Homo sapiens: one gene and its partners. The protein of the gene in region 4 interacts with the protein of the main gene of each other region in a pairwise test. Each region holds a gene or a part of one and is shown on either strand. Other genes may lie near its edges. The genes, in order: USH1C, DTNA, DMD and CTNNAL1.

The links.
Region 1: the proteins of CTNNAL1 (region 4) and USH1C interact in binary tests that used the Homo sapiens proteins (3 or more experiments, as listed by UniProt).
Region 2: the proteins of CTNNAL1 (region 4) and DTNA interact in binary tests that used the Homo sapiens proteins (3 or more experiments, as listed by UniProt).
Region 3: the proteins of CTNNAL1 (region 4) and DMD interact in binary tests that used the Homo sapiens proteins (3 or more experiments, as listed by UniProt).

The regions. Positions count from the first base shown.
Region 1 is NC_000011.10:17,541,387-17,549,054, reverse strand, and holds the start of USH1C (harmonin), read left to right. Parts: upstream 1-4,638; 5' UTR 4,639-4,747; coding exon 4,748-4,783; intron 4,784-7,668. Other genes in the region: OTOG (otogelin isoform a precursor), read right to left, coding at 843-920, 1,509-1,682. UniProt on the Homo sapiens protein: Anchoring/scaffolding protein that is a part of the functional network formed by USH1C, USH1G, CDH23 and MYO7A that mediates mechanotransduction in cochlear hair cells. Required for normal development and maintenance of cochlear hair cell bundles.
Region 2 is NC_000018.10:34,811,281-34,818,310, forward strand, and holds part of DTNA (dystrobrevin alpha), read left to right. Parts: intron 1-678; coding exon 679-833; intron 834-4,628; coding exon 4,629-4,734; intron 4,735-6,681; exon of another isoform or gene 6,682-6,883; coding exon 6,884-7,030. UniProt on the Homo sapiens protein: May be involved in the formation and stability of synapses as well as being involved in the clustering of nicotinic acetylcholine receptors.
Region 3 is NC_000023.11:32,340,535-32,347,564, forward strand, and holds part of DMD (dystrophin), read right to left. Parts: intron 5,547-7,030; coding exon 5,409-5,546; intron 2,753-5,408; coding exon 2,600-2,752; intron 2,317-2,599; coding exon of another isoform or gene 2,308-2,316; exon of another isoform or gene 1,833-2,307; intron 1,749-1,832; coding exon 1,566-1,748; intron 1-1,565. UniProt on the Homo sapiens protein: Anchors the extracellular matrix to the cytoskeleton via F-actin. Ligand for dystroglycan.
Region 4 is NC_000009.12:108,942,055-108,947,507, reverse strand, and holds the end of CTNNAL1 (alpha-catulin), read left to right. Parts: intron 1-3,489; coding exon 3,490-3,546; intron 3,547-3,691; coding exon 3,692-3,805; intron 3,806-4,463; coding exon 4,464-4,547; intron 4,548-4,636; coding exon of another isoform or gene 4,637-4,654; exon of another isoform or gene 4,655-4,673; coding exon 4,674-4,739; 3' UTR 4,740-4,931; downstream 4,932-5,453. UniProt on the Homo sapiens protein: May modulate the Rho pathway signaling by providing a scaffold for the Lbc Rho guanine nucleotide exchange factor (ARHGEF1).

The DNA of each region.
Region 1 (7,668 bases), on a different chromosome or scaffold from region 4:
AAGATGGGCAGTGGAATGGTCAAGACTCAAAGGATAGAGGCCGGGCTCAGTGGCTCATGCCTAATCCCAGCACTTTGGGAGGCTGACACAGAAGGATCACTTGAGGCCAGGAGTTCAAGACCAGCCTGGGCAACATAGTGAGACTCTGTCTCTACCAAAAAAATTGAAATTCAACCAGGCATGGTGGCACACACCTATAGTCCTAGCTACTCAGGTAACGGAGGCACCAGGATCACTTGAGCCCAGGAAGTTGAGGCTGCAGTGAACTATGATTATGCGACTGCACTCCAGCCTGTGTCACAGAGCAAGACCCCGACTCAAAAAAAGAAAAAAAAAGGCTCAAAGGATGAGTTCAGGGCTCTGCTTCTCAACCAAACCTTCCTTGCAACTTCCACCAGGTGGCCTAGTTTTTGTCTTGCCTGCATTCTTGAGGCTCCGCTCAGGGTATGGAGAGGAGCCTCTGACAGGGTTGAGGGCCTTCGCAGGCCAGTCAGGGAAAAGAGAACTCCATTCTTCTAAACGTCCATCTTTCTACTTTTACCTGCCAGAAGGGAGAGCTCAGCTCTCTCCTGAAAGAGCCCTGGTGCCCACCTCTCCTAAAAAAAAAAAAAAAAAAAAAAAAAAAAAAAAAAAAAAGAGTGGACTATAGACCCCCAAGAGATTAAAAAGAATAGAAGGGTTTTATGAACTTGCACACCTCAGACACATACCAGGAATCTGCTTGTTCCTTTCTGAACAACTCCAGAGACCCCTCCTGTAACCTACAGAGCTCCCTGCCAGCCTCAGATCCAGATAGACATGAGCTCCTGCTCAATGAAGCCCCCTCCCAAGACCTCCCTTACCTGGCCTCCCACGACTGTAGCCTTGTCCCCCATGGCAAGGGTCGCCTCCTGGTGGCTGCTGCTGGAGGAAACACGAGTCTGGCATGGATGGGGGGCTAGGATGGGTTATGCCTCCCCGCAGTCCCCTGGCCTATCCCACCCTAAGTGCTAAAGCCCTGGGGTCGCTGATGCCAGAAATACGGATGGGAGCTGTGGGTGGGGCCGCCACAGCTCACACCTACTCACCTGGGTTGCCCGGCTGGCTCTGGCTGTGGCTCTGCACTGCCCCACAGAACGGGTGCTGCGGCTGGGGAGGGGGATTATTCTCCACTCAAATTGTGCTTGTCTTTACTGGGGCCTCCCACCACCTGGCCCCCACTGCTAGAAAGCCTCTCCCACGCCACTGAGCATTCCCCCATTCTCCCTCCCTGCAGCCTTCTCAAATCCTTTCTCTCCCTTCCTGATGACCCTTCTCCAGCCAGGATCTCCCTGTTTACTCTCAGTCTTTGGCCCCCAGCTCTCTCTAGTTCCCCACCTCGGGTCTCTTCCACCCAGCCTAACTTTGGACTCTTTCCCCCGCGGTCATAGGCCTGCCTCTGTTGGCTTCGGGGTCCCTCCTCCCCTGACTGCTCCTCCTGGGTGTCCCTCTGCTCTCCCTCAAACCTCTCTTTCCTCCCTCTCTCCAACCTGCGCGGGCCCATTCCTCATTCCTTTAACGTTTCTCATTCCTCGAGCCCCCGACCTCCCTGAGTCCACAACCCTCTCACCGAGGCGCTGCACCCGCAGGGACTCGGCTGCCTGCTCACCCCAGGGCAGCCAGACACAAAGCAGCCAGCAGAGCGCAGACGCCAGGACTCCCATAGGGACACGAGGGGACCGGAGGACTTGAGCGCAGGGCCAGCCTCCCGAGGTGCCTCCCCGGGCTAAGGCAGGGTCACACCTCCACTCCGCAGCCGAGGTCCCTCTTGTTCTCATGCCCCAGGGCTCCCTCAGCCCCTCCTCCCAGGCTCTCAGCTCCTCCCCGAACTAGAGTGACAGGAGTACCCAGCTTATTACCATAATTTAGGCGCCTGTCCATAGCCTAGCCTCTGCTTTTCTTGGCCTGTGGCCACACCTCCCCAGGGGAGGCTGGATTCAGATTACTCAGCCCTAAATTGTCTAGGGAAGCATAGAGGCAGCCTATGCAACCTCCAGCTCCCCTTACCTGGGTCCTGGAAGCCCAATACCAGAGACGCAAGATGCAGGTATGAGTCTGGCCCTATCCTCTCCTTTTACAGAGGGCCATGCTGAGGCCCTGGGACATGCCACTCAGGGATCAGTGGTCAATAACAGAGCCTGCAGAGTCCTAGCCTATGTTCTCACCATGCCCCACCTCAGCTTCCACCTGGGTCTCCACATCCGTATCCTATGACCAGTTTTGAGCACCTCTAGGGAATGGATCATGCCTTAGTCCTCTGAATGCCCAGCACCAGCTCCTGCCCGAGCTCAGGAAATGACGATTGAATAATAAAAGTGTTTCATACTCCTATGTTATTGCCACCATCAAGGCCAAACTTTGACAAAACAACTTTATATGTGTGAACGAGGTCCACTGTCTGCCCAGGAGGAATTTTAAAATGGCAAAAACATGGGACTGAGCACCTGGGGAATCTGTACATCATTCACTTCGTCATCACTTAGGGAACACCAACTAGATGCTAGGTCTTACAGAGGATGATGATGATGGTGGTGGTGGTGGTCGTGGTGGTATTGGCCCCAGTAGACTTCTAGGCAAGGGTATAGATTTGAGATGCATTCATTCATTCATTCATTCATTCATTCACTCAACAAATTTGTTTGGCATTGATTCCATGCCATGCACTGTTCTAGGCATATAGTGGTAAATAAAGCAAACACAGCTATCTTCACACAGGAGGAAGCTGGGGGCACAGATAGGAAGATGAAGAGGAAAGAGCTAAGGATGGAGCCTTAAGGAATGCTGGTTAAGGAACAGGCAAAGACTGATTGTCTCCAAGGAAGCTTGAAACAAAAATTCATGAGAGAGGAGAACCAGGTCTCAATGCTATTCTCAAAACAAAGCAGGGGGCATTTTAAGGTGGAGGGAGTCTGTGGGGGTAATGGCCAATGTAAAATAAGGATTGGTGTGGCAGGTGAACAGCATTCCCCTGGATAAGGACATTCATTCACCTCTGCCAGGATTCTAAATACAAAATAAACAGCCATATGACATTCTTTTCCAATGTAGAGAATCAATGAAGTAAGTCGGAGGGGAATGCATTTTGTGTGGCCTTTTCTGGACCATTCAAAAATCCCACAAGTCTTTCCATTTTATCGCTGACTTAATAGTTAATGCTAAGGTGAGAAAACAGATCATATTTTAAGGTTCTTCTCCAAGAGGGATTTACATCTTAAACTAGGCAACAAAAATAGTGTGCTTGTAAAACTTCAGCTATTGGGGAGAGGGACGCAGAGGGGTGTTTAGGTGCCCCAGAGTTACAATTGTAAGTGGTTACCTGATGTAAGCTGCTGTCCATCTCCTTGCCCCTGCCCTTGACAGGGCACAAAGGGCTCAGGTGCCTCCCTGGGTTAAGTTCAGGCACAAGCCCCATACTTAGCCTCTGATTTACACATTTTTATCACCCCTCTCCTAGCCCCTCTTTCCTTTCATCTCTTTCCAGGCCTGGTTCATCATTGTCTTTGATGAATCTTTCCTTTCATTCCTTTCCAGGCCTGGTTCATCATTGTCTTTGCACCAAGCACTAGACCTAGGAGTTAAGCAAATGCTGACCAAATTGAATTAAATGAACCAGAGGGTCTGGGCCCTGGGTGAAGGTCAGCCATAGATCAAAATGTCACTGCCAGGCTCTGCCAGGCTTCGATGGATATGTGAGTGTGTTGGGTTTGGGTTTTGTTTTGTCTTGTTTTGTTGGGGGTGGAGGTGTTAGGGAAGGTGGGAGGGGAAATCAGTTGAGGGGGGCACTCTCACACACACTGATTCAGACCCCTGCGGCCCACAGTAAAACCCAGCCCTGTCCCCAAGGAATTCACAGAACAAGGATTGATTTCTCCCTGGTGGAAAAGTGCAGGAGGAAGCCAGGACTGAAGGTACGCTGGAGGTGAGGGCGTAGCAAGGGCTGACAGTCCAGGAGGGCCATGAACCTCGACAAGAGTATCCAGAGAAGGCCGGGCGCGGTGGCCCGCGCCTGTAATCCCAGCACTTTGGGAGGCCGAGGTGGGCAGATCACGAGGTCAGGAGATCGAGACCTTCCTGGCGAACACGGTGAAACCCCGTCTCTACTAAAAATACAAAAAAAAAAAATTAGCCGGGCGTGGTGGCGGGCGCCTGTAGTCCCAGCTACTCGGGAGGCTGAGGCAGGAGAATGGCGTGAACCCGGGAGGCGGAGCTTGCAGTGAGCCAAGATCATGCCACTGCACTGTAGCCTGGGCGACAGAGCGAGACTCCGTCTCGGGGGGGAAAAAAAAAGAATATCCAGAGAAAACGGACTAGATTGCCCCGCCCCCCGCCCGTGTAAATAGTTTCCGTATCTCTCTATTCCGGTCCCCACAAAAAAGTCCCAAACCTCCTCCCTACGTCTCCACGATCTTCTTCCTCAAACGCATGTGTTCAGGTACCACTTCCAGAGAAATACCAGCTTGAAGCCCAGCTACTGCCACCTCAGGCCCATAGGCACACTGGGGCCCATTTGCTCCCAGGCTTCAGTGGGAGGCGACGACTCAGCACCTTCGACTCCAGCCTCGCAGCGGCCCCGCCCCACAGAGGCCTGGCCCCGCCCCTCCGCGCTCAGGCCCCGCCCCCAGCTCCGAGGGCGGCTGGCCCGGTCGCGGTCGCGGCTCTTTCCAGCTCCTGGCAGCCGGGCACCCGAAGGAACGGGTCGTGCAACGACGCAGCTGGACCTGGCCCAGCCATGGACCGAAAAGTGGCCCGAGAATTCCGGCATAAGGTCAGAGCTGCAGGGCGCCCCAGGCTTCTGGGACTCCGGAGTCCTGGGCGCGGTGGGTAGGGGGTGGACACCCCGGCACTGCCCCTCCCTTTTCCGGCCCCACCTGATGGCTCTGGTTGGGCTGGGACACCCGAGGGTCGTCTGGCTGGCAGCAGGGATCCCCAGTAAAGTGAGGGAGGGAATGCGGGGACTCCCGGCTCAAGGACTGCTAAACGAGTCGATCTTCTGCCAGCCTTTCTCCCTCTGCCTTCCAGGGGCAGGGACGTCTCTGGGGTTTGAATTCCTTCCAGTCTTGGCCGCTTTTCTGAGGTGCCCCCTTTGTGGGCAAGCCCCTCTCCTTCCTAGTGCCCCCAGCTCAGGGCTGTTGAGGCATGTGGAGACAGTCTGGGGCAGTATCTGAGAGGTGAGGGTTGGGAGAAGGGAAACTAGACGTCTCTCTCTCTGCCTTTTGACCTCAGAACATGAGTTAGAAGCATTTCAGCCCTGCCTGCCTAAGGGCGTTTCTTAGGGTCTGAGAAGTAGCTGAGGAGCTGGTGCTGACCCGGGTGCGGTGGGGAGGAAGGGAGGAGGTACTGAGGGCGTCGGAGCTGGGCTCTGGCCGGCCAGATCCTTCAGGCAGAGCCGGGTCCACCCTGGTGTGTCCCAGTGAGGGGCCTCACTGGTGGTCTGGGATTCTCAAGGACCATCTCTGGAAGTGGCCAGGTTTCACACAGGGCATTTCGAGAATGATTCACAAAGCTGTGCAGAATCTGCTGAGGCCCTGAGACCAGAGAGGGCCATCAAAGAGATCCAGCCTACTTCCCCACCAAGTCTTAGGATGCCTCTGAGTCTGGGGATGAAGCCGCTTGGGGGGGGTGGGTGGTATCTGGAGCTCCCCACAGGCCCTGCCTGAGGGGCAGGTAACTATTGATAACTTAACTATTGATAACTGTGTGACCCAAGGCTCTCCCAAAGACCCCAGGGGCAGTGTCTTTAGACCAAGCCAAACCTCTTCCTGGTTTGAGAGCTGAGCTCAGGTAGGGCAGGTCAGGGTGCTTAACTCCTTCCTTCCCATAAAGAGGCCCATAGGAGCCCAAGGAGCTAGCCAGTGTAGGGGCCACAGGGGCTTGGGGCCAAGGGCCCGGGGTCAGTTATTCATTTAATAAGCATGTTTTGAGCATCCTCTCAGCCATACCCAGTCTGTGCCCTTTGCTGGTGGTGTAGGTGGGAGGCAGACCCTACCCTGGTAATTACCCATGTCTGAGTGCTGCGTGTTGAGGCCAAGCTTTTGTAGGGGCACAAAGGGACAGCTCAAACTGGCAGAAGGCTCCTGAAAACAAGGTCTTGGGCATTTCTGGTCCTGCTCCCAGGGGTGGGTGATAGCTGGAAGTTCAGCAGGAATTTAGGGGCTGGCGAATACCAAGGGGAGCTTGAGAGAGCATTCACTGTTACATCCTGTTGCAAAGAGACATGTCGGAAGAAATTTCAGCCACTAAGGACATTTTGTGAGTGTAGATTTCAGGCAACCCAGTTTGAAGGAGCTCAGCCTTCCATCCCCCAACCCAAGACTCAGGGTTGAATTTCAGTTTCCTGCCCCTGGCCTGAAATAACATCAGGTCTTCTGCCTTCACTCTGTGGGGTACCTGCTCTCTCTTTTTTGTGAGAATCATCTCCAGGGTCCCTGGTGTCTGATGCAGATCCTGGGTTTGCCCTGTTCCTCTTCCCCAGGTCCCACAGGCTCCAAAGGGCCTCAGACCTCCACGTTTCCTCTGCCCTACTCTTCCTCATCGCAACAGTCATTACTTATTAATATCCCTGTGTGCAGGCAGGGCAGGCGCCATGCGCTAGGCAAGGCCCAGGCTGGACTTTGTGCCCTGCTGCCTTGGAGACAGCCACAGCCTTCCCCTCCCAGGTTGGGGATCATCCAGGAACTGGGGAGAGAGGATGAAGCACAGAGGATAGAAAGGAGGCACACAGACATGCTGGGAGAAATTTACAGCTTGCTGTTGTTTGCTTTGTAGGGGTCCCTTCCTTAGTGTTTTGGAAGAAATGGTTTGTGATCTAAATCCTTAGTTGTTGGAAGTAATATTTAAGGTAGTGTGTTATAATGGAAAGTGCTCTGTGACCTTGAGCAAGTTACTTAATCTCTCTGTGCCTCAGTGCTCTTACTTGTGAAAAGAGATAACAATATTTAACGAATAAGGTTACCATGAATGCTGAATGAGACCTACATGTGTGTGGGGAGCTTAAATAGACCCTGGCACTTAGGGAGCTCTCAAGAAATGTCCATGTTGATTATTATCTGGAGTTAGCAGAACTGGGACCAAATCTTAGCCCTGTCACTGTCAGGAAGACCTTGACCAAGCCACCCACTCTCCCTGAGTTTTAGTTTCTTCAGCTATGAGATGGAGTTTGTAGAACTTACCTCACAAGACAGTCAAAACTAACTAGCAATTAAAGTACTGGCTGCTCTGGGCCCACAGTAACCACACTGTTTCCAGCTGATACCTGCAGAGTGTCCAGTGGGAGCCAACAGGCTCCAGGCATCGACTCCCTTTGATTTGTGAAGTTACCCCAAGGCCGCCAGGAGCACTTGCATACCCTTCCAGTAACTAGTAGCAACCTTGGGCCAGGATGTGGGGGAGCAGGGCTTGGTCAGAGACTGTTTTCTCCCTCAGAGAACCAGCTTTCAAAGGGAGACTGCTCTTCTGTTCGCAGCACCAGCACAGGGTAGGAACTTGGTTACTCATTGGCTTAAAAGTATTTATTGCCTCTTCAGCAATCATGCATTTATGAGCATAGCTGTGTATTCTGCCTGAGGCCAGGCATCTGACAACCGGTTGGGATGAATAAGATCAGAAAGAGCCACCACTCTCTAGGAATTTGTTAATCATTCATTTATTCAC
Region 2 (7,030 bases), on a different chromosome or scaffold from region 4:
CCAGGACCCTGACTTTACCTCATTGATCATCCACAAGACCAGGCTTCCTCTTCACTACACGAGTCAGAAAACCCTTCCCTGTAAATCAAGTGCCTTCCACCCAGAAAACTGTAATTCATAGAAAGTTTTCTTCTTCTGTAGGAAGTTAATCAAGTGTTTGTCATTACATCTTTATCCTCACCGTGTCTTTGATTTTCAAATATCTTACACCAAAATCCGAAAGTTTTAGTGATAATATAAATTGGTAAATTTCTAGCTAGATAAATGAATATACGCACACCCCAACTTTATAGTAAAACTCTCATTGTGTTTCAAATGAAGTCAGCGTCTCTCTCATATATACAAAAATTTCTCTTGTTGAGCTACATGAGAGTTAATAGTTGACCTCAAAACAAAAATGTAGTGTCTTATTAAAGACATTTAATAAGTGTCTCTCTCATTAAAATGTTAACTTTACCCAAATTACTTGTGATTGCTATGTGCCAGAATCATCTACAAAAAGAAACCAGAGAAAACATTATGCCAGGAATATTTCAGCATAAAAATTAGCTTTTATATTATTCTTTCATAAAAAATGTTTATTTTGCTACTTTTTTGTCATTTGTAGCAGATATATTGAACAAAAACAGTGGAGAATGTTCATGTGATGAATAATATCTTTCCTTTTCCTTTCATCAGATATTTTCTCAATGATTTCTGACTCCAGTGGGGTGATGGTTTATGGACGATATGACCAATTCCTTCGGGAAGTTCTCAAACTACCCACGGCAGTTTTTGAAGGTCCTTCATTTGGTTACACAGAACAGTCAGCCAGATCCTGTTTCTCCCAACAGGTAGGAGAAAAATATGTTTAAGGAAGTATCTCTTTCAAACAGTGGTTGCTCTCCTTCTAGATGTCATTCCAGGTCACAGATACTCAGACAAATTATTCTGTGTGATAGCAACCTGTATTGTATTTTTCAGCCTCTGGCAAATGACCTCTGAGCCAGTAACTAAACCCAGCACATCTGGATCACAATAATAGACAGTGTTTACTGACCATGAGGCAGGCACTGTGCTAAATTTTTTCCTTTCATTGTCTAATTTAATCCCTACAACAACCCTTCTGTGTTAGTCTCTTTTCACACTGCTATAAAGACATACCCGAGACTGGGTAATTTATAAAGAAAAGAGGTTTAACAGACTCACAGTTCCGCCTCAGGAAACTTACAATCCTGGTGGAAGGTGAAGGGAAGCAAAGACCTACCTTCTTCACATGGCGACAGGAAAGAGAAAGAATGAAAAGCCCAGGGGAATCTGCCATTTATAACACCATCGGATCTCCTGAGAACTCCCTCACTATCATGAAAACAGCATGGGGGAACCACCCCATGATCCAATCACCTCCCACCAGGTCTCTCCCTCAACACCTGGGAATTACAGTTCAAGATGGGATTGGGTGGGGACACAAAGCCTTACCATATCACCTACACCCTCAGTGTCATTATTTTTACTATCACTGCACTTTCAAAAGGGCTTAATTGTCTCACTCAGCCTCATGTGAAATATATGCTTGACCCGGCAACAAGCTTTAACATTGGTTTAGCAAAGGATACCAGAAAGGAATCCCAACATCTGCCACATCATGACCTGAGAGGCCCAAAATATGGTAAACACAGCTGCCTGAATCTTCTACAGCATGACACATTTGGGGTTCCAAGTGATGTGTTTTAACTGGGTATGGCTCAAGCTACCCTGGGAAGCTGCATAGTTTAGGGGGCTATCTATGTGTGTACCTCTCTGGTCATGTAGAGAGACTCCAGGCCCATTCTCCAGCGTAGCCCAGTGGTAGCATAGAAATCCATACATTAAAGGTTAGTTTACCATTTTTTGAGAATCCAAACTAACTTTTTTGTCCTCTAAAAATGCCTCTTGACTGGGTGTGGTGGCTCACTCCTATAATCCCAGGACTTTGGGAGGCCGAGGCTCAGGAGCTCAGGAGTTCAAAACCAGTGTGAGCAACATAGGGAAACCCCATTTCTACGAAAAATTTTTAAAACATAGCCAGGCATGGTGGTACATGCTTGTAGTCCTAGCTTCTCAGGAGGCTGAGGCAGGAGGATAGCTTAAGCCCGGATGGCGCCACTGCATTCCAGCCTGGGCGACAGAGCAAGGCCCTGTCTCAAAAAAAAAAAAAAAGGTATATCCCTGCCCCATAAAATGCATACAACAAATGCTCACTACACAGCTTTATGGATTAAGAGTCAGGAAGTCTTTTCTTTTTACTGAAATTAACTTTTAAAAGTGTCAATAGGCCGGGTGAGGTGGCTCACTCCTGTAAGCCCAGCACTTTGGGAGGCCAAGGCGGGCGGATCACAAGGTCAGGAGTTTGAGACCAGCCTGTCCAATATGTTGAAACCCCGTCTCTACTAAAAATACAAAAATTAGCCGGGCATGGTGGCAGGCACCTGTAGTCCCAGCTAGAAGCAGGAGAATTGCTTGAACCCGTGAGGCAGAGGTTGCAGTGAGCCAAGATTGTGCCACTGCACTCCAGCCTGGGAGACAAAGCAAGACTCCATCTCAAAAAAAAAAAAAAAAAAAAAGTCAATCACTTCAAAACACAAATCTATTTTTTCATTCAATTTTACTGCTTTCCAACTTTTCTCATGGCATGCTAAATGTATGGCTCCTTTTATTTTTACAGTGCTTTATGCCTCACAAAGTGAATTATCTGATTTATGGCTTGCAACAACCCTGTGACCTAACAAGGAAAATATGATTCTTTTTTAACAATATAAAGTTCATAGCTAGTGAGGGCAGGGGGCTGAGTTTTTAACTCTGGTCTTCTAATTCCATCTGTTAATGTTATTCTTGTGTTCTTGTTGTTGTTGCTTTTGTTTTGTGCACTTTCAGTTCATATTTACAAATATGCAGATGATCTGACTCAAGGAAATGTAACTACCTGTTGTATTACTTCACCCAGTCATGGAAACAAGAATAATTTCATTTATAACTGAATTCTTGAATTTTAGTTAGTGTATTATAGAATAATTGGTAAATGTGCTAATGCCTCAGAATATATGTCTCATTCAAAATCAGCTAGAATAATAGGACTGGGTTTTAAAAAAAAAATCTTAAAAGGACCTATGCTGGTGTGATGGCTCACACAGTAATCCTAGCACTGAGAGGCTGAGGCAGGAGGAGAGCTTGAGTCCAGCAGTTCAAGACCAGCCTGGACAACATAGTAAGATCTCATCTCTGAAAAAAAAAAAAAATTAAACAATTAGCCAGGTGTGGTGGCACACACTTATAGTCCCAGCTACTTGGGAGGCTGAGATGAGAGGATCCCTTTAGCCCAGGTGTTCAAGGTTGCAGTGAGCTATAATTGTGCCACTGCACTCCAGCCTGGGCAGCAGAGTGAGATCCTGTCTCTAAAAGAAAAAAAAAAGAGAAAAAAGGACCTATGTGTTCAAGAATTATATGTGATGTTGACATGTTCAAAATTCCTTTTGAAATATCCTATAGACTGTTCTGTTATATGATTTATATATATCCTTAATGATAAGCAACTTATACATGTTGAAATCATAATAGCATTGTTGGAAACTTCCAGGAGTGCTTTTTAGCAAGTATGACAAATAGTCAAAATGAATAAGATCATTTCAAATATGAAAAGAGGTAACACAAAAATAATAAGACCAGTTTATTTTTGTACTTAATGAATTGGCTATTAACAGCTACTCAAGAGTCTGAGGTAGGTAGGAGGAGGTAGGAAGACAGCTTGAGACCAGGAGTTAGAGTCCAGCCTGGGCAACATAATGAGACCCCATCTTTCAAGCAAATAAATAAAATATTTTAAAAAATAAATAAATAAAATTATCCCATCCCCTTTGATATTCTAGTTCAAAATTTCAAGTAGTGATTTTTGCATATAAATATGTATTTTTTTATTTATACCATTACAGTACATGTATTAATATAGCTTTCTTACTTTTATCATTTTGAAAGAAACTTATAGATACAATGCATTCCTTTTGTACATCCAAAAGGACCTGGATAGTGAGAAAGAAGCAGACTGAATTGAGAGGAATTATATATAAAGTAATAAAAGGAGCAAATTTTTAAAAATGTAGATGGTTCTGTCCTAACAGGATTCCCTCCTGCTCTTGTATAACAGAACCATTCACATTAACCACTAAATATTTAGTACTTAAGGAAGTTGAGGAAGCTCAGAAGGGAAGTTGTTCTATAAATTTAGAAGACTGACTGACAGGAAAATTGTAGAGTGAGCTATGATGCGTTCTTGAGTAAAATTCCATGGAGAATTTCCATTCTTTATTTTGCTTCATTATTTTTATACTGTCTTTCATATATACAAATGATGCTCTTGGAATTGTTTTTCTCCTGGTGATACTATTGACTCAGCCTCAGTGGAGAGAATTCAGTCCTATGTCTGCTTAGGTATAAAAAGCAAACGATGTTTTCAGTTCTAAACTAGTTTAATAACACATTTGGCAAGTTCTGTTTCTTCAGATATTAGACATTTATTGAGTGCTCTTTTGTTTCAGTCTCAAATGATATGATATTTACATAGCAGGTAAATTGAGATGATTCTCTGTCCTAAATTTATGGGGGGTTTTTTTATGCAGAAAAAAGTCACGTTAAATGGTTTCTTGGACACGCTTATGTCAGATCCTCCCCCGCAGTGTCTGGTCTGGTTGCCTCTTCTGCATCGACTAGCAAATGTGGAAAATGGTGAGTAGTTACTAAGGAGCAAAGGTGATTTTTTAAATTATTGAAATTAGGCCATTAGTTCTACAGTTAGTAAGCCCAGGCTGTTGTTTTAGGGAAGCCTATTTAGTGGCTCTTAGTTTTGTTTAGGGTAGAACTAACCCATCTCCCTGTTCGGGAAGGCCTTAAAGGACCACTGAAAAATTAGGACTGTCAGTTCCAAAAATAAATCTCATGGTCTTCTTCTCAATTACAAGTCAGGTGTGGTTAAAAGACTTGGCACGATAGAAGGCGAACTTCAACAAGGAGTGTGACATTATTTTGTATTTGTTTTAGATCCGAATTTCTCATATTTGCATACACGGTACTGATTATTTCTTCCCAGGCACTCAGCCAGAAATAGGTGGGAGAAATGAGAAAAAAAAATAGATGATAGCACCCTGTTAATCTTTAGTCATATGTTCCAGATTGTGAGCTTTCAATAGTTGTACTTACGTTAAAGATAAGAGTAAAATAACTTTCGTATCATGTCTTTTTTTAAAGCAAGTATTTCTAGGATAAAAGGAACTACTGTTGGCATATCCAGATTTAAATATGAAATACCATTTGGGGCAAAATTTACAGAAAATTAAACATGGAGCAGTTCAGTGCCTCCATCTAATCTTTAGGTGTTCCTACTTATTGTTCAATGTAACTCTGAAATTTCTCCAGACTTGACGAGGAAATAATTTAGTCTCTATCTCTTACTGAGATTTAACTTAAGTCTCTATATATTACTCAACTTCTGTGTATTTCTTTAATATACATTGCAGCTAAAGTTAGCTTAATTTTAAATTATCATTCAGAATTTTTAGCATCTGCCCTTATTTATCTGTTAGTTAGAAGTTATGAATTTATCCTGTTTTTCTCATGGAGAAAATTTAAAGAATGAATTTATTTTATTTTTTTGCAATCACTAACAATCATAGTTTTTTTATGTTTATCCATATGCAGAAGCGAAGAGCAATCAAGGTCCATGTTATTATGCAAAATGAGTTCACGTTACTGTTTACAGTTCTAGAACTAGTCATTTTCCAATCATAAAGCTATAATTTCTTTCGTTCTCTCTCAGCATTTCCTGCTGCAGGAGATCAGTTTCTTAGGCACCATCCCAGAACAGTTGTCCCTAGATTGAAGTCCCACTCTAGTCTTTCTCAAGAGCCGGGAAGAAAGGTTATGACACTTGTTTAGAAGACAATGCGTCCAGAGCTAGTTATGTCTTTGTTTTTACACTTTGCTTTTTATCTTCATTTATTATTATTTTCATTGTTTTTCCTGACTGGTTAGGCCGGAGAATAGCTTTACCAAAGGCAAGAATTGTTATTGTTGTTTTAGTATCTAGCTCATAGCATGTAGACAATTACTTGGATTTGATCACTTAAATCTAATATTTTACTTTGCTTCAAATCTAGTATTTTGCTTTGCCTGCTTTATAATTCAAATTTCCTACCAAAGAAAGTTAACCGTCTCTTGAGGCATTTGAATTATTTAGAACTGTTTTCAGATAATTTGCACATCTTTTTTAGGGCCCTATACACCTGCCTCAGGAAAGAAAAAAAAATCTGTTTGTCAGATGTAGGCAACACCACTCGTTAAGTAAGCCATTAGTCACTCTATTTTTTAAAAAATAACTTAATTATCTCATCCACACCAGTTTTCCATTCTCTGCCCATCTTCCTTTCTTTTTTCTTCCTCTCATTCTCCGTGTCTCTGATATTCGCTCTCTTCCCACTGGACAATCAGCATTCACCCCTTGTGCTTCTGAGTCTTCCAGTGAGCTGTGCTGGTCTCCTGGAGACAGAGAGCAGTTTGGGGTAAAGGCAAGTCTGTTTGGCTAATTTAAATTCTTGTAATGTGAGAGATGGGAATAGAAAGAGCAAATGGCATTACAGAGATTTTTGTTGTTAAAAGGACACCTCTTCTCCATCCCATTTCATTTCATTTCCCCACAGGCATGATTGAAAAGGGTTGTAAGATTCCAGGAATGAACTAAATGTTTCTCTGAGCCCAAATCAACTATCATCTGAAATCGTGGTGCAGAGAAGAAAGGTGCAATTCCTGTAAGGCTGTATTTTTCCTTCTTCTGGTTCATACTTTTGTTTTCTTGGTTTTTCTTCACTTACTTCCCCCTTAGTCTTCCATCCGGTTGAGTGTTCCTACTGCCACAGTGAGAGTATGATGGGATTTCGCTACCGATGCCAACAGTGTCACAATTACCAGCTCTGTCAGGACTGCTTCTGGAGGGGACATGCCGGTGGTTCTCATAGCAACCAGCACCAAA
Region 3 (7,030 bases), on a different chromosome or scaffold from region 4:
GCCATAAAGCATTAGCAACTTGATTAGTTTGTAACGAATTTTAAACCTGCATATTGGGTGTGTCAAGACCTGGGGAAAATTGGAATGGAGAAATGAGTTAGTAGTCAGATAATTCAAAGCAAAGGACTCCCCCTTGAATGATCTATTAAATTGAGGTGAAACTATTTTATTAGAATTTTCTTTTTGATTGCCTTAATCTTTCGCTTCATTTTGCATCTGCAGACACAGGCTTGCTGGTTAGTGTAAGGTTATTTATGACACATTACATTCATAACATCTAATATGAAGGATAATAGGCTGAAACATTCAGCCAGGTGGAATTAGACTTCACATGCAATACAGTTTCGCTATTTCTCGTATTCTTCCAATTGCTCAGAATAATTCACCTGCTATTAAACTTTAGGGTATTAGATTTAACAGAAAACAGTGTATTTATTAATTTTCTTGAAGTATTAAAAGAAGTCACAATAATATGCAACATACTTCCCTTATATGCTTATAAAATTAAGTTATGGTAACTGCTTTTGACATTTTAAAAATATACACCAAATTAAATGGAACTGACACTATCACAGAAGAAGTTCCCAAGAAGTCTCATACATGGGCTGAACCCTATGCAGTTATTATTTACATAGGGCAAAATGGTTGAGTATCTGTTTGATTCATATAATTCAACCTAACTTAACTATAAAGACTTAGTTTCCAGATTTTGACATCCTGGTTTTGTGAGGAGTACTTTCTTCTATAATTACAGATGATGATCATTCCTCTTCATCTTACAAGTGTTAATAATAGGAACAAAAATGTACCTGTCAGAAAACCTCTATGGTTTATACCTACTACAAATAAAGAAGTGAGACCAAGCTAACAATTCTGAATCGCCTTTTTAAAGAGAGAACCATACACTTTCCATTCAGTTGTTTGAAAGAAGAGCAGTCACTCCTTTTTGTTTTGGCTGGTAACATTTCAGTAATAACATTATCTGATATTGTTCAATCTGCAATCAATTAGCAACCATCTTACTAGGCATCCAGTTCTTTTATGGGCACTGTAACCCATTAAGTAGTTAAACCAGGTGTGAGGATTAAGCTATTATTCTTCAAGTCAATGAGATAATGGCTTATGCAGGTTGACATAAGATGTACCATGAAATATTTATTATTTATCATGTATACATTAAGAAAGTAAAATCAGCATGGGATGATCTCAGGAAAGCAATACATATTTTTTGGATTAGACATTGAAGTAAAGTGAATGTATGATAAATTGACAAATTAACATTGCCAATGTTATGAAAAATGATGTAGCAAAAAAAATTAAGATGTATTTTCATTTTTGATAAGGGGTTTTCCCTGTTATCTGTTAATTTCTTGTGTCTTTAATTGGCAAAATTAAGCACTAGTGTTACAGAAGCCCAAAGTGAGGGAAACCACTCACTTTCAGAATGTACATTAGAAGTTTAAAACTGTACCCAGATTTTTTGTCTCTTTTTTTTTTATTAGTAGGCCTCTGTTAATAGAGTAGTAGTTGCAAACACATACGTGGGTTTGCCAGTAACAACTCACAATTTGTGCAAAGTTGAGTCTTCGAAACTGAGCAAATTTGCTCTCAATTTCCCGCCAGCGCTTGCTGAGCTGGATCTGAGTTGGCTCCACTGCCATTGCGGCCCCATCCTCAGACAAGCCCTCAGCTTGCCTACGCACTGCATTCAGCTCCTCTTTCTTCTTCTGCAATTCCCGATCAATTTCCTATTGAGCAAAACCAATACAGGGCCCAGGGCAGTTAGCTAACCACATCAACCGACTTGCAAGCAGCAAATACTTCTCTCAAAATTTCAAAGGCTGTTGTCCCTTTATTGTCATCCTTTGAAGTTTACAAATATGAAAGGCATGACTGTCATCCTCGCTCAATAACCCAAATATTATTTCAGTTATCCTTTGAATGCTTGGTTTTAGATATTCTAATTAAGTAAATATTGAAATTGGTCTAACATTTTCTTTCTTCTAAATTCCTCTGGTGTCTTGGGATTTGAAACAATTTGGAGTGATAACTCATTATTTATTAGGGACCGTCCACATAGAATATAATTTAGAGGGTAAGTGAATAAGTTATTTATTTCCTTTTTAAAGGTTTGAGGAACTCAACAGAGAATGAAGCAAAATAAAAAGTGTAAAATAATAACAGAAAAAAACATATTTAGACAATATGCAAATAAATCTATAGAGAGTGAACACTGATGTGTGAAGATGCTCTGATGAAATGAATGGGCTAACATGAGTAAGAAGTCGTCCATATACCGATAAGTCATTAGTTCATCTGGAACAAAGATACACAAAGTCAATTACAATTTTACCAGAAAACACATCACATTTCTTAAATCACTTTACATAGTCTAAAACATTTTATTCATTCAACATTACGTCAATTGAATAACACTTAATACAATACATTTACTGAAAACAACACACAATACAAGGAAATGCATCAAATCAAAGAGAACGTTAATAGAAACAAGAACATCAACATTTTAAATATGATCTTCACAGGTTAATTAAACTGTATAATAAAATCTGGTATTGACATTCTAAAACAACATTACCTTTATTTTCCTTTCATCTCTGGGCTCAGGTAGGCTGGCTAATTTTTTTTCAATGTCATCCAAGCATTTCAGGAGATCATCAGCCTGCCTCTTGTACTGATACCACTGATGAGAAATTTCTAGAGCCTTTTTTCTTCTTTGAGACCTCAAATCCTGTTCATGGTGCAGACATTATTAAAATATCAATATATATGTATAGTGCACTTCTGGCTGCAGTTATTTATCAAAATAATTTGCGTCCCTCATCTTTTTGTACAACTTAGGTTAAAATCATATTTAAATGCAAAATATACAAAGACATAATTAAATTGCCTATGCATGAGGCGGGACCCATGTATAGGAAGCTAAGAAACCTGAATAACACACTTAAAGTATTTTCTCTTAGCATGTTCAAACTTGCTTAAAAATTTTGTCACATTCAATTGACTCTTAATGAGCTAACTGTTGTGTAGTTTATGTGCAAGAGTTTAATATACGAATACAATTGACTTAACTAGATACAAACTCACAAACCTAGTGAGTTTGTATCTGACTTAAAATAGGTAAAATTCTAAAATGTATATCTTTAGCCTTGGGGCTCATCAACAAAACTTTATGTACTCAACCAATATACATTCATGTTTTTAGAAATGCCTACATAAGAGTTTCATAGGCCATTAATATTTTATGATTAGAAATATAAAGCCATTTTAGTTGTCTTATAAACTGTTCCAAGCTGTATGTGTAGAAGTGTCACCACTGTTCGTATATTGGTGAACATAACTAATAAAAAATTATGTGAGATAAATGCTTCTCCTTCCAAGGCTTGCATAGCCACATTTATCTTACTATACCAAATCATGCTCTAAATGCAAAACAATTAACTATTTGAAAAAAGAAAACAGCAAGTGCATGCTTTCAAATCAATGTGATAAGACTAATTTAATAAATCAACAATGGGAGGAAATCAGTCATCATGCTCTTTACAAGCACACTCAATATCTTCTGTGATTAATAGAATTACTCAAAATGCCATTTTATAATTCATGGGAACATAAGCTCTGCATGCAGCTTTCATTTCTACAGAAAGTAGCAATTAGGGTTTTATTCACAGGTTTAATTCGAGCGAAAAAATAATAAATATCAGGGAATTTCTAAAAATTTCATTCCATTGGAAAATTTTGACCTTCTCTAAAATATTTCATAAGGACCAGAATTGGAACTATTTGACAGGTTTAAAAAGTTATTGAATATGTTGGTATAGATTGGTTTGGCGAGTAGTGTTGACGATTTTGATTAATCACTTATAGCCTGTATTTGCAAGAATGAACTACATTTCATTATCTAGTTTGTTTAAAATTGGGAATTTAAACCTTGCTGTACTTTATGTTTTATGTTGAATTTTCAAACCTTCTGAGGAGTCAGATCGAACGCTGCTTTTTTCAAAGGTAGCAAGATACAGCCACGTGAATTAGAGTTGAGCCATGCCTTATTTGTGACATAACTCACATCTTTGCCAGGAGAAAGGGCTTGGTGGTCATCAATCTGAAACATCTTTCATTTCCTAAGCACAAAGTGATGTATAATATGTAAAATATTTAGAGATGTCATGTAGATTTCTTTAGAGGAATGCCAGATGACCATTAAACACTGCTATTCAGTAGGACACACACCATCATACGACCAGTGTAGATACTTCTGAAAGCTTGCTCACAGTTGGAAGGGTGTGAGTTACATAGCGTTCCGATTTTCTAGACACATTATGGTGTGCTTTTGCACTCCCTCGAGGAAGAGGCCTTTTCTGTTTACTATATTTATCAGCAGTTACCTTCAGAACACCTGCTGGCCAATTAGACTTTCCTTGTGGATTCCTTGCAGGCACAATATTGTGTAATTACATTCTCAGCAGTGTTTATTTGGTTGACTATAGGGGGAAAGGTTTTATTCTCTTATTTGCATGTAGAAAGCAGACTCCATCTACCTGCTAGGTGGATCCACCTTCATAACTACATAGCTCAAAAGAGTGATTTACAAGGAAAAGCTCAGCAATTAAAAGTATTAGAAAATCAGCCATGCATGCAAATAGTGATTATTGCAAAGCATATACAAAAAAAAAGTTTCACAAAACTTTCCACATGTCTAGTCTCAAGAACTTCCTAGATATTATTATAGAAAAATTAAGTTTATCCTGCTCTTCCTGCACAAACCAGATGAGTCACCTGGGGACTTGAAGCCATACACTACACTGCTTAATATGAAAGTAGCAGTTCTTATTCAAGGGCACTAAGATTATTTTTTAGGATTCCTACATAAATGAAATTTGACTTTGTAGATAGTTGCAAAGAGTGACTTTCTTAAAGGCATAATAAAGTTTTAAAAATAAATAAAAGAATCTAGGGCTTATTAAACAAGTATCAGGTTACCAAAAAATTGGACCTAATGCAAGCAAAATCAATTAAGTAAAGAAAGCAGGAATAATGGATACATGTAGATCGGTTATTCTGGCAGTTAGGCAGGTTTTTTTCAATATAAAGTAGCTGATAAAAATAAAGCACATTAGAAAATTAAATGTATAAGTACTATGAATGCATTCCCATCTTTCAATTACTACTTAGAAAAATATGTCTTTAAAAAGCCATAACTTTTAAGCAACACATCGTTCAAAATCAAATACCACTCAAAAATGTTAAATAAAGCATACACATTGAACAGAAAAAGTGAGTTTCTGATGACTAAGTCTGAAGCAGATTTTATTAATGCACATTATATTTTACCCTATATATTAAAAAAAAACCACAGGCAAGGTATATTATAATTTTAGCTCTAATACCTTGAGAGCATTATGTTTTGTCTGTAACAGCTGCTGTTTTATCTTTATTTCCTCTCGCTTTCTCTCATCTGTGATTCTTTGTTGTAAGTTGTCTCCTCTTTGCAACAATTCTTTTACAGTACCCTCATTGTCTTCATTCTGATCAAAAACAACAAGTACAGTCTTCATTTTGGTTTTTAAAAAGCTGTACATTGTTAACAGAGATAATAAGACATGTTATTTAAACACACACAAAAATCCAATTTAAAACTTTCATGGAATGCTATTATAAGATACTGTGCTCATAGCCTTTCTTTTACATTTGGTACTTGAGGTTTCAAAATAAGTTTCCTCCCATCTAGTTGTAAAGAACACATTTTTAGGGGCACCTGTAGAAAGATGGGGGAGTGTGGTACTTCATCATGTCAGACAAGTCATGAATTACTGTGAAAGTATTCTTTTGGCTTTTTTAGTGTAGTTCTAGAAATTAAAACATTAGAGAAATGAGCTAAAGTTATCATTTATAATGTTAACTGATCCATAAAGGAATACAGATGTGTATTTGTGACTGAGATAACAGCAAATCTGAAAATATTAACACACAACTACATGAAAATATTTTGATTTAAATGTACACTAATTCCTATCTAATAACTCCTGCTTCATTTCTGAAACCTAAATGCTCAATATTAATAGGAGAAATATCAGGATATTAATAAAAATCATGTGCTAAGTTACCATCAAATAATTTCTAAAATATGTCATATATGCATGTTAATTTAAATACGATCAAATAATACTAAAATATGGACTGGAAAATGGCTTTAAACATTTTCAATGGGTATTTTGTTCCTTTAGGCTGCAAGAACAATATCTTAATTTTCTTTACTTAGAAATAAAATGTTTTGAATAAATGCTGGTCTAATATAGTCGCATATATGACCATGTGATTTTTCACCTTTAGTTTTCTTTCTTTCAACTCAGAATGTGAAAACTTTGTATCAAGTAGTCTCACATTGTAATGGTACTCAAGGTACACTGATGACATAAGGAAAACAAATAATAAATTTCAAAAGTCACAAGTATTTGTATGTGTGTATTACAATTCAAGGAATTAGATGTTATATATTTAAATCTATAATGCATAAACTTCAACACGCAACTGAGGACTGATTCATTTTGTATGGGGGAAAGGGATTATTTTTGTCAGAGACTGGTCAATAATCTAAAGAAACATACGGCATAATATAGACACATTATATACTTATCATAATATAGACACATCATATACTTATAGTCTGTAAAAGACTTTACTTATTTTAAAAGGTGTTGTAAAAGTCTGTAGCATTTTCTAGGGCTGAGGACAAAAACAACAAAAAATTAAAAAACCCACTTCACTTCTTTCCCTATACCAGTTGAGGGCTCTAGGGCAGAGTTGGGGTCAGCCCAAGAGGTAATCAGTACTTTTTTTCATCTTGGTGCCCTCTAGTTTCTTCTTTGACCTGAAGTAGAGATTGCTGTAACTCAGCAACTTGGAAAGCCTCTTCCGTCTTTCCACAAGCTGAGTTGGCAAGGCCACCAAACCCCATACATGGGGAGTATTGATTGAGGCAGCTCCAGGAAGTGGGAACTAAGATTGGTGG
Region 4 (5,453 bases):
TGTGTGTAAATTTGAAATTTCTGTCACTTTATCACTCATATAGTCTCCTTTGGCATTCCCATGTACATCTGAGATTTGAAATTTCTATCACTTTAGGCCAGGCGCGGTGGCTCACGCCTGTAATCCCAGCACTTTGGGAGGCCAAGGTGGGTGGATCACGAGGTCAGGAGATCGAGACCATCTTGGCTAACACGGTGGAACCCTGTCTCCACTAAAAATACACAAAATTCGCTGGGTGTGGTGGCGGGCACCTGTAGTCCCAGCTACTTGGGAGGCTGAGGCAGGAGAGTGGCGTGAACCCGGGAGGCGGAGCTTGCAGTGAGCTGAGATCACGCCACTGCACTCCAGTCTGGGTGACAGAGCAAGACTCCATCTCAAAAAAAAAAAAAAAAGAAAGAAATTTCTATCACTTTATCACTCATATAGTTTTATTTGGCATTCTGTGGGAAAGGGATTTCAGCTTAAGAGGATGATTGTCAACATAATCAGAAGTATTATAGAAAATGTGTCTTCTGGATTTTTCTGTAAAGCAGACTATAAATGAGCTATTTCCCTTAAGATAGTTGAAATTCTGAATTTATTTTTTTTTTCAGTTTGGCCCAAGTCCATTCTGTCATACCGCCCTGTAGGGGTGTTTTACTACAAAAGATCCACTACTTACCTTCTTCCTATGTGAGCTTAGTCATTAAATCAATGTTCAATGAATTGTCTCCAAACTGTGATGAACATAAAATTGCATACTTCATTCAACAAATATTTATTGAACTTGTGCTATATGTCAGATCTGGGAGAACAGAGCTCTGTGGAGAAAAGTGAACAAAGCAAAGCTCCTGCCCCCATAGAGCTTATGTTCTAATGGCAGAATATAGACAATAAGAATTTAAGCATTCAGTGCACATATGTAAGTACTTGGAGATAAAATCACGTACGACTAGAATACAGAGGTGATAGAGGGGTGGTCAGAAAAGACCTCTCTAAGGAGCCAGTGTTTGAATAGAGACAGTAATGAAGTGAGAGTTGGATGGATAAATGTGGGTAGAGGATTTTAGATAGCCAAAACAAGTGCAAAGCCCCGAGGTGCAGGGGTAGGGCTGGGTGTATCAGAAGAGTAAGGAGGCAATTATTGATGGGAGTGAAGTGAGCCAGAAGGAAAGGGGTAAAATATGATGTCTCTGTAGGCCATGGGAAGGACTTTTTTTTTTTTTTTTTTGAGACTTAGTCTCGCTCTGTTGTCAGGCTGGAGTGCAGTGGCACGATCTCGGCTCACTACAGCCTCCGCCTCCCGGGTTCAAGTGATTCTTCTGCCTCAGCCTCCCGAGTAGCTGGGACTACAGGTGTGCGCTACCACGCCCAGCTAATTTTTGTATTTTTAGTAGAGACAGGGTTTCACCATGTTGGCCAGGATGGTCTCGATCTCTTGACCTTGTGATTCGCCCGCCTCAGCCTCCCAAAGTGCTGGGATTACAGGCCTGAGCCACTATGCCCAGCTGATCCTATTATGTTTTAAGTAAGGTTTTTGGCTTGGCCAACAGAGTGAGTGGTAGTGCCATTTTCTGAGACAGGGAACACTGAGGGAGAACACTAGATTTAGAGGGTGGAAATCGAGCATTTTGTTTTGCACATGTTAAGTACAAAGGTCAGATAGGATATACACTTGGCCCTCCCTATCTGCAGGTTTTGCATCTGCAGATTCAACCAACTATGGATTGAAAATATTCAAAACAGTAAAAACAGTCTGGGCACAATGGCTCACTCCTGTAACCCTAGCACTTTGGGAGACCAAGCTGGGAGGATCACTTGAGTCCAGGAGTTTGAGACCAGCTGGGGCAACATAGTGAGACCTTGTCTCTACAAAAAAACAAAACAAAAAAAAAAAAAACTAGCGGGGCATGGTGGCACACACCTGTAATCCTAGCTACTCAGGCAGCTGAGGCAGGAGGATCGCTTGAGCCTGGGAGGTCAAGGCTGTAGTGAGCTGTGATCACACCACTTCACTTCACTCTGGACAACAGAGTGAGACCCTGTCTCAAAAAAAAAAAAAAAAGGAAGAAAACCAATAAAATATAACAACAGTAAAAAAAAACAAAATACATTTTAAAAGGTTAGAGTTCCAAGGGAGGGAAAACAATACAGTATAACTGCGATTTACTTAGCATTTACATTAACTTAGATATTATAATTTAGAGATGAGATGATTTAAAGTTTATGGGATGATGTGTGTAGGTTATATGCAAATACTACACTGTTTTATTTAAGGGACTTAAGCATCTACAGATTTTGGTATCCTTGGGGAGGTCTGGGAACCAATCTCCCATGGATACTGAGGGATGACTGTACAAGACTGATGTCAGGATAGTTCAGGAGTGGAGAGAGAGACCTGGGAGTTACCAGCTTTCAGGTAGTTTTAAAACCATCATACTGTATGAGACAGACATGGATTTTGTCCCCAAGGGGTTTGCAGGCTAGAAGGAAAGAGAAAATTTGCAGAATAGAAAGTGGTAACATGAAGTGATAAGGAACACTTGGGGAAGTGAATCATTTCATTTGGTTGGAGTCTAGATGTAAAGCTTACTGGTTTCCCTTTTAAAGGGAAGGTTGCAAAGTACGATTTGACCTTGAGATCATTTTATCCAGTGATAGCAAGGTGTTAAGCCTTTTGAATAGAGGGTAAAAATTAACCCTGGAATTATTGCCTCCTCCTTCTTAGTATTCTTTAATTTATTATGAAGACCTATTATTTTCATTCACAAACCACTCTCAGATTTTCCCTGTTCTCTCCATTATTACTGACGCCACCTAAAACTAAGCCTTCCTCCCTTTACTCCCCTGGCATCTCACTCTAAAATAGTCTGCAAACCATTTTAACATAATATGCTAAATACTTCTGTCTTACCTGTACAACCTTCTTTTTCACTCTACTTCTCCATCATCCTGTTCATCTCATTAAATTATAGAATTCATGGTACATGGTGAATAGTGAAAATTAATCTGAAAAAAAGTGGCAACAAAAACCAACCACCTGGATTGGTTCTCTCAAATGTCTGGTTATGGAATATGTATGGGTGACAAATTTTGTCTTGCCTAGATGGAATTGGGAAGGTCCTAACCCTTTTGACCTCATGCTTGAAAATTCATCATCCTTTTATAATTGAGCATATTTGAGATGAGCTCTAGGTCCCTTGCGTAATCTAGACATAATTTGTGTGGCTGAATATCACAGGTCTGTGTGACCCTCCAGAATAATTGGAGGTCTGGTGTAGAGAAGCCTCTCCAGGGATGGATTCTGCATCTGGTCTGTGGAAACTCCTTCTGAAAACAGTTAAACCCTTGTGCATTCCTGGTACTGGAAAAAGTTTAGGAGTTCCTGACAGACTTTTTATATCTAGGCTTTATTTTTAAAATTCTACGTAAAAATTATTAGTAAGTATATTTCTTACCAACTATCCATAGACATCAGTCTAAAATAGTGGTGTTTTCTCTTTCTACCAGGTTTTTGCTGCAGAGGGTTTAAAGCTTACTTCCAGTGTTCAAGCTTTTTCAAAACAGGTAACACATGTCTACCTACCTGGAGCTGGTGGTGGTATTATGTATAACCTACTTTGGGGGTATAATATCAATGTATAAATGTGTTTAAGGTATTAAAGATGGAGTTTTGTTGCGGGCTGTTATAACTTGTTAAATTACATTTCAGCTGAAAGACGATGACAAGCTTATGCTTCTCCTGGAAATAAACAAGCTAATTCCTCTATGCCACCAGCTCCAGACAGTAACTAAGACTTCTTTGCAGAATAAAGTATTTCTAAAGGTAAAAGAGACATATGAAAAACTTTCACACATCTATCTTTATCTGGTTAAAGCCCCTTTTTCTTCAAATAAACTGTTAGTACCCACAGAAGGGCAATTTATTTCCTTTTTTCATGCCTTGTCTACAAGAATCATTTATTATCTACTCTCATAACTGACCCCAGAGAGTAGCAGATTCACCAAATAAAGTAGTTTTTTGGACATCATTAATTCCATAGCACTGAACAGCTGCCCTTCAATTCTGAAGTCATTACCTCTGCAACTAGGACACAGGTGCCTCCGAGTCTGGTCTCCCATAATTTGTCTGAGAGAATATGGGTTTGTGCCCACAAAATAGAGTGCAAGGAATTGCAAAGGATGGGATTTAATTCCACTATTTGGAGTGTTTTGAGAAGCCCCTAAACAGCCTGCAGTAGAATGATTAATTTTCCACCCACTCTTTCTGCTGGGGTTCCATGAGATAGACATGAAATCTAGGCAGCTACCCCTGCACCTGTGTCCTGGGGCTTTGAGTCAGCTCATGTGCCTAAATCCATATCTCTTTCAAGATCCCTTAGATTTCCATATGGAGAAATTTTATCATGTTAAAACTAAATAAATGGTAAGGTCTTTTAAGTACTACTTTTAGAATATCATTTGCATGCTTTTTGTCATTGTAGGTTGACAAGTGTATTACGAAGACAAGATCCATGATGGCTCTCTTAGTCCAACTTCTTTCACTTTGTTATAAACTGCTGAAGAAGGTGAGGTAGTTTTTCTATTTTAGACTCATACTTTAAAAAATGGTTTAAAAGAAAATAGTTACTACTTAATTTTGTAATTTTTTTTTCAGAGTGAAACCAGATACTAATTGTCTTAACTCTTTCCAGCTTCAGATGGAAAATAACGGATGGGTCTCAGTTACAAATAAGGACACTATGGATAGTAAAACTTGAGAAGCTTTTGGGGTCAGATCTCTGGAACATCATGTGATGAAGCTGACATTTTTAAAAATCAAATGATCCTTTATCTTTTCAGAAATTCATCAATTTTATAAAGAAAACAATATTGAAATTTTGCTCTATTTTCTGATCATGAAACTGATTGTAAAGCTTTTTGACAACTAATAAATGTCTTGGTAATTGCTAGATTCTAATTGTAGTGTGATTTTTAAAATAGAACATTGCACTAATGTTCTTTAAAAGTCAAACCAAATATCCCAACTGTCTCAAGGACAATTTAATCCACAAGAAGCTATTTTGAATATGTGCTTAGCTTTGGCATATTTTACCTTAACTGTTTTCTTTATCATCTAGATCACTAATGTCAGCAGCAAACATACAGTAGTCTGGGTGAATGCAGGGTTTTCCTTAAACCTGTGGACTCTTCAATCCCTCTGTTTACCAAGTGTGACAAAAATCCCCTTGATGACCCTGTCCCAGATTGTCCATGCCAGCAGCAAGTTTGTTCCCTAATAAGCATTTTGTACAGCAAGGGTGGGTCTGCTGTGCTGTGTATGTCCCTCACCTACTCCCAAAAGTAAGGTAATGGAACTCCACAGAATCCTGGAACAACTCCTGGAGAGTATGAGATGGGTTTTTGGTTCTAGTTCTAGCATAGCTGGCCAGTCTGCCCTGAATATTAGCTGGGATTCTAAGCCTATCTTATAG